Linked DNA regions of Homo sapiens: region 1 is linked to region 2. The links come from fine-mapping of genetic effects on gene expression. A gene starts in region 2. The other region holds a variant in brackets. All regions are shown on one strand. Distances are from middle to middle.

What was found. PIP is the estimated chance that this variant, and not a neighbour inherited with it, causes the effect.
Region 1: its variant is fine-mapped to the expression of MOB3B in monocytes after Pam3CSK4 (Quach 2016, PIP 0.95). The same link has a PIP of 0.9 or more in monocytes, monocytes after LPS and monocytes after R848.

The regions. Positions count from the first base shown.
Region 1 is chr9:27,464,272-27,468,657 of GRCh38, reverse strand. All of the region lies in intron 1 of MOB3B (MOB kinase activator 3B), which reads left to right. Among named protein-coding and RNA genes, the nearest start is that of IFNK, 58 kb to the left of the region's middle. RefSeq lists an enhancer at 2,908-3,409. The variant T/C (reference allele first, on the strand shown) is at 1,972.
Region 2 is chr9:27,527,622-27,531,997 of GRCh38, reverse strand. It overlaps MOB3B (MOB kinase activator 3B), which reads left to right and starts at 2,184. Exons shown (of 4, transcript NM_024761.5): 1 at 2,184-2,443. It overlaps LOC124902107 (dapper homolog 3-like), which reads right to left and starts at 3,542. Exons shown (of 2, transcript XM_047424279.1): 1 at 3,272-3,542; 2 at 1,298-2,978. The coding sequence starts at 3,542. The coding sequence ends at 1,990. RefSeq lists silencers at 2,137-2,436, 3,407-3,456.

The DNA.
Region 1 (4,386 bases), 63 kb after region 2:
AGTGAAGTCTAGGGTGTGCTCCCAACCCTCATAAACTGATGGAGGGGCCAGACATGTGAGCAAAGAAATACAGCACAGTATGTGGTCCTGGGGCATTCGCATCAGAGATGTGCATGCAAGGTGCACACGATGACCAGCCATCCCGTCCTTCTTGCTCCTTCTTTTGGTACCTTGTTCCCTCTGCTTTACCAGGAGTTGAAGTTAAGCCAGAGAGAAGTTTGAGGAAATCGAGGCTGGGCAAGGGAGAGGCCTTATCTGAGTGGATAGAAAGTTTTTCAGTTCCCTGGAGAAAGCTTCTGATAATCATGTTCCCAGACAGTAGCCACATACAGGGGCATGGGACTGTCAGGCCTAAAGCTCACTGTCAATTGTGGAGGATTCAGAAGCACTTCATAGATGATGGGGGACTCTGTTCTGAGCAGTCTGTCTCTGTGTGTCTGCCACTGAGCAGTAACTGGTACAAATGCACCCTATGACTAGGTTTTCTTTCTTAGCTGAGAAATCTCTTGAGAAGGCTATGCATTTCTGGTGTGTAGACAGACTTTCTGCAGATGAGTAAGTTATGTCTTAAACAGAGTTCTTGTTGAACTAATGTCACGAAGAGTCTCTGCTAACAAAAACAGCTAACTTTGCATAGCCAAGCCACTCTGCACAACTTAACAATGTTAGTTCTCCAATAGAGCCCTAATAAACAAGTCACACCACTCTTCCCTATGTGGCTTCAAAGAAGTTGATAGTAACAATACAACAACAAAAACAAAAATCAACTTTGTTTCTTATGGAAGCCAGACTGTTAACCAATGGGCCTGTTAACTCTAAACTCTGGATTTGCCCACCCTTTCCCATGTAGCACTGGTGAGAGCAGACCAATTCCATTCATAAAGGCAGAAAGCTGGGGAAGCAGCAGGTAGCACACTTGAAAGCAGGCACTTCGCAGGAGGAAAAAAGGTCAGGCTGAGCCAGCTGAGCATGTGCGGTTTGCCAACTAAGTGAATCCATCCCTCCACTTGCCCTGGGGCGATGTTAGTAAAAGGACATAGAGAGGATAGTAGGATGCATAGGGAAAATTCTTCCTCATCCAAACCACGAGTGGGGAAATGGTGCTTCCCTCTGAGGTGCCTCAAGATTTTACACTTTTTGAGGGTCATGTGCTTAGGTCTTGTGGGGAAGAAGTCAAAGAAAGAGCACATTATGGTTGGGACTCCTATTGATCATCACACCACCTGAAATCTGATCATAGGAGAAATCCAGATTAATAAATTTAACACTTGACATTTACCTATCTTTACTTATATTATCTCACTTATCCCCAAAACCCACTGTGATATTGGTATTAGCACCCTAACAACAAAGAAAGAAATTAAAGCACAAAGAGAAAGCATTTAGCCCACAAGGGTAACTGGTCAAGGGGCAGAGTCTGGACTCAGACCTGCATCTTTCTGGCTCTAAAGGTAGACCTCTTTTCAGTCTTTGAGGAGGATACATGGTTTGCAATTACATGTCTGACTCAATTTCATTTCAAACTTTTTTTTTAACTTGTTATTGGCATGTTTGAGAGAATAGAGTGGGTAGAATCATTAATTATTTGTCTCAATTTTATCTCAGGGTTACCTGCTTTGTGTACCTGTTTTTCATGTAGAAAAATGAGAAATCATCTAGCTAGATGGTTGTCTGTTCTCTCTTGAGAGTTTCTAGAAATGCAGACTTAATCCTTCTGGCAGGATCTCTGGATTCTGATAACAGGAATGATAACAGGAATGATATGGTTTGGCTGTGTCCCCACCCAAATCTCAACTTGAATTTTATCTCCCAAAATTCCCACATATTGTAGGACGGACCCAAGGGGAGATAATTGAATCATAAGGGCCGGTCTTTCCCGTGCTATTCTTGTGATAGTGAATAAGTCTCACGAGATCTGATGGGTTTATCAGGGGTTTCTGCTTTTGCTTCTTCCTCATTTTCTCTTGCTGC[T/C]GCCGTATAAGAAGTGCCTTCTGCCTCCCACTATGATTCTGAGGCCTCCCCAACCATGTGGAACTCTAAGTCCAATTAAACCCCTTTTTTCTTCCCAGTTTTGGGTATGTTTTTATCAGCAGCATGAAAATGGACAAATATAGTAAATTGGTACCAGTAGAGTGAGGCGTTGCTGAAAAGATACCCGAAAATGTGGAAGTGACTTTGGAACTGGGTAACAGGCAGAGGTTGGAACAATGTGAAGGGTTCAGAAGACAGGAAAATGTGGGAAAGTTTGGAACCTCCTAAAGACTTGTTGAATGGCTTTGACAAAAATGCTGATAGTGATGTGAACAATAAGGTCCAGGCTGAAGTGGTCTCAGATGGAGATGAGGAACTTGTTGGGAACTGGAGCAAAGGTGACTCTTGTTATATTTTAGCAAAGAGACTGGTGGCCCTAGAGATTTGTGGAACTTTGAACTTGAGAGAGATGATTTAGGGTAACTGGCGGAAGAAATTTCTAAGCAGCAAAGCTTTCAGAAGGTAACTTGGGTGCTGTTAAATGCATTCTGTTTTAAAAGAGAAACAGAGCGTAAAAGTTCAGAAAATTTGCAGCCTGACGATGCAGTAGAAAAGAAAAACCCATTTTTTGAGGAGAAATTCAAGTCGGCTGCATAAGGAGCAAGGAGCCTAATGTTAATCCCTAAGACCATGGGGAAAATGTCTCCAGGCCATGTCAGAGATCTTCATGGCTGCCCCACCCATCACAGGCCCAGAGGCCCAGCAGGAAAAAGTGGTTTTGTGGGCCGGTCCCAGGATCCCCGTGCTGTATGCAGCCTAGGAACTTGGTGCCCTGTGTCCCAGCCATTCCAGCTGTGGCCGAAAGGGCCAACGTAGAGCTCAGGGTGTGGCTTCAGAGGGTGGAAGCCCCAGGCCTTGGCAGTTTCCACGTGGTGTTGAGCCTGTGGGTGCACAGAAGTCAAGAATTGAGGTTTGGAAACCTCCCCCTAGATTTCAGAAGATGTGTGGACATGCCTGGATACCCAGGCAAAAGTTTGCTGCAGGGGCGGGACCCTCATGGAGAACCTCCGCTAGGGCAGTGCAGAAGGGAAATGTGGGGTTGGAGCCCCCACACAGAGTCCCTACTGGGGCACTGCTTGGTGGAGCTGTAAGAAGAGGGCCATCGTCTTCCAGACCCCAGAATGGTAGATCCACTGACAGCTTGCACTGTGCACCTGGAAAAGCCACACACACTTAATGCCAGCCCATGAAAGCAGCCAGCAGGGAGGCTGTACCCTGCAAAGCCACAGGGGTGGAGCTTCCCAAAATAATGGGAACCCACTTCTTGCAGCAGCATGACCTGGATGTCAGACCTGGAGTCAAAGGAGATCATTTTGGAGCTTTAAAATTTGACTGCCCTGCTGGATTTCGGACTTGCATGGGCCCTGTAACCCCTTTGTTTTGGCCAATTTCTCCCATTTGGAACAGCTGTATTTACCCAATACCTGTACGCACATTGTGTCTAGGAATTAACTAGCTTGCTGTTGACTTTGCAGGCTTATAGGTGGAAGGGACTTGCCTTGTCTCAGATGAGACTTTGGACTATGGACTTTTGGGTTAATGCTGAAATGAGTTAAGACTTTGGGTGACTGTTGGGAAGGCATGATTGGTTTTGAAATGTGAGGTCGTGAGATTTGGAGGGGCCAGGGGCAGAATGATATGGTTTGGCTGTGTCCCCACCCAAATCTCAACTTGAATTATATCTCCCAGAGTTCTCACATGCTATGGCAGGGACCCAGGGGGAGATAATTGAATCATGGGGGCCAGTCTTTCCCATGCTATTCTCGTGATAGTGAATAAGTCTCACGAGATCTGATGGGTTTATCAGGGGTCTCTTTTTTTGCTTCTTCCTCATTTTTCTCTTGCTGCTGCCATGTAAGAAGTGTCTTCCACCTCCCGCCATGATTCTGAGGCCTCCCCAGCCATGTGGAACTGTAAGTCCAATTAAACCTCTTTTTGTTCCCATTTTCAGGTATGTCTTTATCAGCAGCATGAAAATGAGCTAATATAAAAAATAACTTTTTAAACAGTTTAGAAAGTCATTTCTGTTATCAGAATACAGAGGTTGTAACTGGATTATAACCAGGAATGTAATGTGTTAAATGTAGAGTATTTATATGCTATTCTGAAAAGTGTTTGAGGGATTAGTGGGAGGGCATGGTGGATATAATTTGCCCAAATTCATGAAATAAGCCATATTGCATTAGATTTATTATATGCAAAAAAATACTGGAACTCCCTCAAAATATTAGGGTAAGTGTGTTATAAATGTTGGGGAATATTGTTAACTCATTATCAAATCACTGAGGTTAATATTATTTCTTTTTGCCTGAGAATTAGAAGTCCACCCAAATTAAGCAAGAATGAAGCATTTTC
Region 2 (4,376 bases):
ATATATATAAATCTGTGTATATCACATATATAAATTTGCTGTTATTTGAATTGCCATTACCTCAGTGCTTAGGGGAAGCCATGCACGTTTGTTTCTTTTCAGTACCCAGAGTTAATTAACATAAGTTATCACAGAAGCTCCCATAAGCATTGAGACAATTTCTCTATACCTGTGACTATTTAAGGTTTTGAAAACAAAACAGAAGCAGGTAAGGAGGAAGTACGCTTTACTATTGAAGATTTATTAGGTACACATTTAGATTTGTGAACTCACATTGCTTAGGATGAAAGGGACTCTTGAGGATGTCTGCTGTTTGTTAGTGAACTGCCTGTAACAATTACAATTAGCACACACATGAGCACAATGAACTGGGTAGTCAGACTCAGCCAAAATGAATAGAAATAGCCTCTTACCAAATTTACTTTGAGTAGCCCTTGGACTCTGAGCACTGCTGCCCAGAGCAATATGACTGTAGGTCCAAGTTTGTCAATGACTATGCAAATGTGCTTTCTTCGCTTTTACTCTATTGTCATCTGTCTATTACAATGTTGCTATGGTGACACCTTTCCAATATCCCTGTGCTTCTTTGGTATCCTCTAAGGGGAAGCTGTAATGAAGTGGCTTGGCAAAAGAATCCTCTTGGAATTTTTTTTTTTTCATATGCTACTGAAAACCAGCATGATTTTCCTCTTATGGGAAATGTATAAAGTATGAGTTGGAAATGATGGAAATTAATCTGTACTGACTTGGGCAAGGAATGTGAATGTTATTCATTCTGTTCCAAACTACCTGAAAATATTCTCTTTCTGTTCCTACTTTCCAGGAGATAACATCTTAAGGGACACTGAAGCTTGTGCGTGTGTGAGTAGAACACGTGCTGGGGGCTCTTGAGCTCATGAGGGAGGGGCTACATGTCGGTGGGGTGATAACTGTATGCTGGAAACAATGATAGGTGGTGACCCTGGAGCACTTACCATGTGACAGGTGTTATGCTAAGCATGTTGTATGCATTCCTTCATTGAATGACAGCTACCTATATTATCCTCATTTTATAAGATGAGGTAACAGAGCTTCAGAAAGGTTAGACTCAGCTGCTATGGGTCTGTCTGACTCTGGTGTTCTTCCTCTTAAAAACTGGGGCACTTTGGAAATGAGATTCCTCGGTGATGAACAGAAATATTGCTTAGCGGCTGTATTTTTGTATCTGGCAGTTTTCCCATATTTGAGTCTTATATTCACAATCGGTATCTTTACATTACACAAAAGTGACACAGAATTAGAGTCATTTAATCCAGGGTTGATATCATTAAGTCATGACTATTTATTAAATGTTTCTTACAATATCTGAGATGATATTGCAAAAGATGTAAGTGATTTTAGAAGTTCTCACTTCGTAGTTAGTTGCAGAAACCTCTTTTGGAGGAGGGATGTTTTCTCTATATATCCTAATTTCTACTTAATATATTTCCACACCTCTTTGAAGTGTGTAGTAAGAATGGTAAAATGCAGTACTTCGTCATTTGGTACAGTTCAATCAATATGCATTAAGATGTGATCATATGGGTAATAGAAAAATGTGAAAGATCCAATTCTTTTTCTCCAGAAGGCAGGAAGCTCATATTTGATTTCTGTTACTATAAACTATAAAAACGTTTCAAATGTAGTTTACCCGTAACCATCACCCTGCAAGGGTGATATTGCTCCCCGCCAATTTACGGAGGAGAATACTGAGGCTTTAAGGTTGTAGATAGACCAAGACCACACAAGTAGAGAGTGGCGGGCTGTGGGTTGAGCTTTAAAATCCAGGTTCATCCATGACTCCCAGTGTGTTCTAGTAAATCCACTAGAATCTGAGTATTTTCCAATGATTTATGCTCCGCTCTGTGTCAGGCAGTTCATGGTATTTTTCAACAATCAGAAAATCCTGGGGAAGGCAAACTGTTTCCCCCTCTCTAGGTGCCTTGGAAGTGGCCGTTGTGGACCCAGAGATCATCCTTTCTGATCTGACACCTTCTTCACTGCCCTGGCCCAGTGTCTTTTCTGCAAGGCTGGAAGCCCCCTTAGACTGGTCATGTCCCATCTCTTTCCGGAGGGAAGATGATCCCAAAGACGACTTTTCTCTCCACGGTGCTGCCATACCGCAGGCGGCCGCCAGGGGTCCCCGCTCGGCGTCCCCGCGAGACAGTCGAGCCCCGGCCGGCTGCGCGGCGCGCTGGGTGCATGAGGGGGCTGCTCCGGAGCGACGGCGGCTGCAGCTGGAGCCAGGCGCTCGCCCGTCCGCCGGTTGGCTCGCCGGGACCTCGCGCACCGGCGGCAGAGTCCCTTGCGTGGATTGGCAAGCGACGCCCCACCTGCCCCGAGCTCACCATTTTCTTTCGCGCTGGCTGCAGCTGACCCGGCGAAGGGAGCCGACCGGGCCCTGGGCTGGAGGTAAAACCCCACGGTGAGTAAGAACCCGCTCCAAGCTAGGGGAGGCGGCGCAGCCCGGTGGCTGCTCGCTCCCGATCTCGCCCGGGCGGGCGGCGAGGTTTGGGGCGCACCTGGGCGCGGGTGCAAGAAGGTGCGGGAGGCGGCGGACCGGTCTTCTGCCCGCCGGCCACGGGCTTCCGGGGCTGGAGTCCTCTTCAGACCCCTGCCGGCGCCTGGGTTTCTGGCCGGCTCCTCGTGTGCACTTCCCGGCAGGAACAAGGGTCGCCCACTTTCCACCCCGGGATCTTGATTTGTCCTTGATTTGAAAAGATATAAATCAATAAGATCGTCCTTCTTTCGGGGTGCAAGACTCCGAGCCCATCCCCAGCCGCGGACGCCTGCAGGGTGCGTGTTGGGCTGTGGGTGGCGGGAAGACAAACTTTTACAAAAGTGCGCCTGGGCTGGGGGACAACGCTTGGGCGTCCTGATCCTGAGGGAGGAGTCTCGGCTTGGGGCAGCGTAGGGGAAGTCCGCACCGTCAGCCAGGTCGCCCCCGGGGCTGACGATGCCTCACGGAGGTGGGGAGCGTGTAAAGGCCGTACAAATCGCGCTTAACTTTGGGGCCAACAACTGTCAAACATCTGGAATCCCAGCCCCTCCCTTTCCCTGAACTGGGGAAGAAGGTGAAAACCCTTCAAGTTTTCTTTGATTGCCCCTTCCCACCTTCAGACCCCTGCTGGGAGGGTAAAGCGCCGACCCCTGGTGCCTGGCAAGTACCAGAGACTCTAAATCTCTCGGGATCCCCCCCCTCGCGCTCTTTCCTGACCCTCTCCCCTAACCCTCCCCACAGAGATCTCTCTACGCAGCCGACTGAGATCGTGGCGAATGGCCTTTTGTTTCTCCGCGTTTCCCCTATTGTTTGCCTTTCCAACATCTGGCGGGGCTTGGGGAGAGAAGGAAGCCCCTCTGGTCCCCCTCCCCGGCCCCCACGCCAGCTCCGGCAGGGGATCCCAGCTGGGAAAGTGGAGGAGCCCGACCCCAGCGAGGCCGCCCCACCCCGCCCTTGTGGTTAGAGGGCGGAGGGAAAGTTGTTCCTTCCCCGCCTCCGCTGCTGCCTGTGGCCCAGGGCGCATTTCTCAGATCTCAGCCCAGGCGCGCCGCAAAGGCTCAAATCCGAGAAGGTGCTGCTTTCGAGACAGTGGAAGCGCGTTCCGCCCCAATCCAGAGCGTCCAGTGGTTGGTTCCAGAGGATTTCAATCTCTAGCCAAAGGCGTTGGGGCTGGGCCGCTGCTAGGGCAGTGGGAGGGGATCGGGGCACCTTTGGTAGGCGGAAAGCTGAGATTCTGGGGTCCACAAGTTTCCAAGGGCGGGAGGGCAGGCTAGTCGCCAAAAAGAGAACGAAGATGCAAATAACGAGGAAGCCTTATGACGTTGCCTGGAAATAGTAGTGTGGTGGTTCACTCCGGAATGAACGTGGAGTTCTGGCTTTGAGTACCGCTCCAAGTTTAAATCCCAAGTCCCCTTTCTTCATTGTAGAAAAAGAGGACTCAGACGACGCAACACAGATACGGCTAGAGCACAGTTCCTGCTTCCACGTCCCAGAGAACAAGTGGCTTAGGATGGTCCCGAGTTCCCCTGTGGGTGCGCTTGTTGGGTTGCAGGCGGCCCTGTTTCCCTGCACAAGTCAGATGCTTACACATTGTGTTCATTCTTAGTGTGGATTATTGATTAAAGAACTGGGGCAAAAGCAAAGTAGCTACTCTGAGAAGTCAGGGTCCCCAGATGGTGCCCAGCGAGTTGTCTTGCCTCTGAGGGGAGGCTGACTGAGACTGTGCACCTGTTAGAACCTATGCTACCCCATAGCCTTGCAGTTGACTTGCTGTTGCCAGCTTTTCCTGTGGGATCCCCAATGAGTCCCTCTTCCAAGGAAGCTCAATTACACTTTTGATTCCTCCTCAACCCAGGGG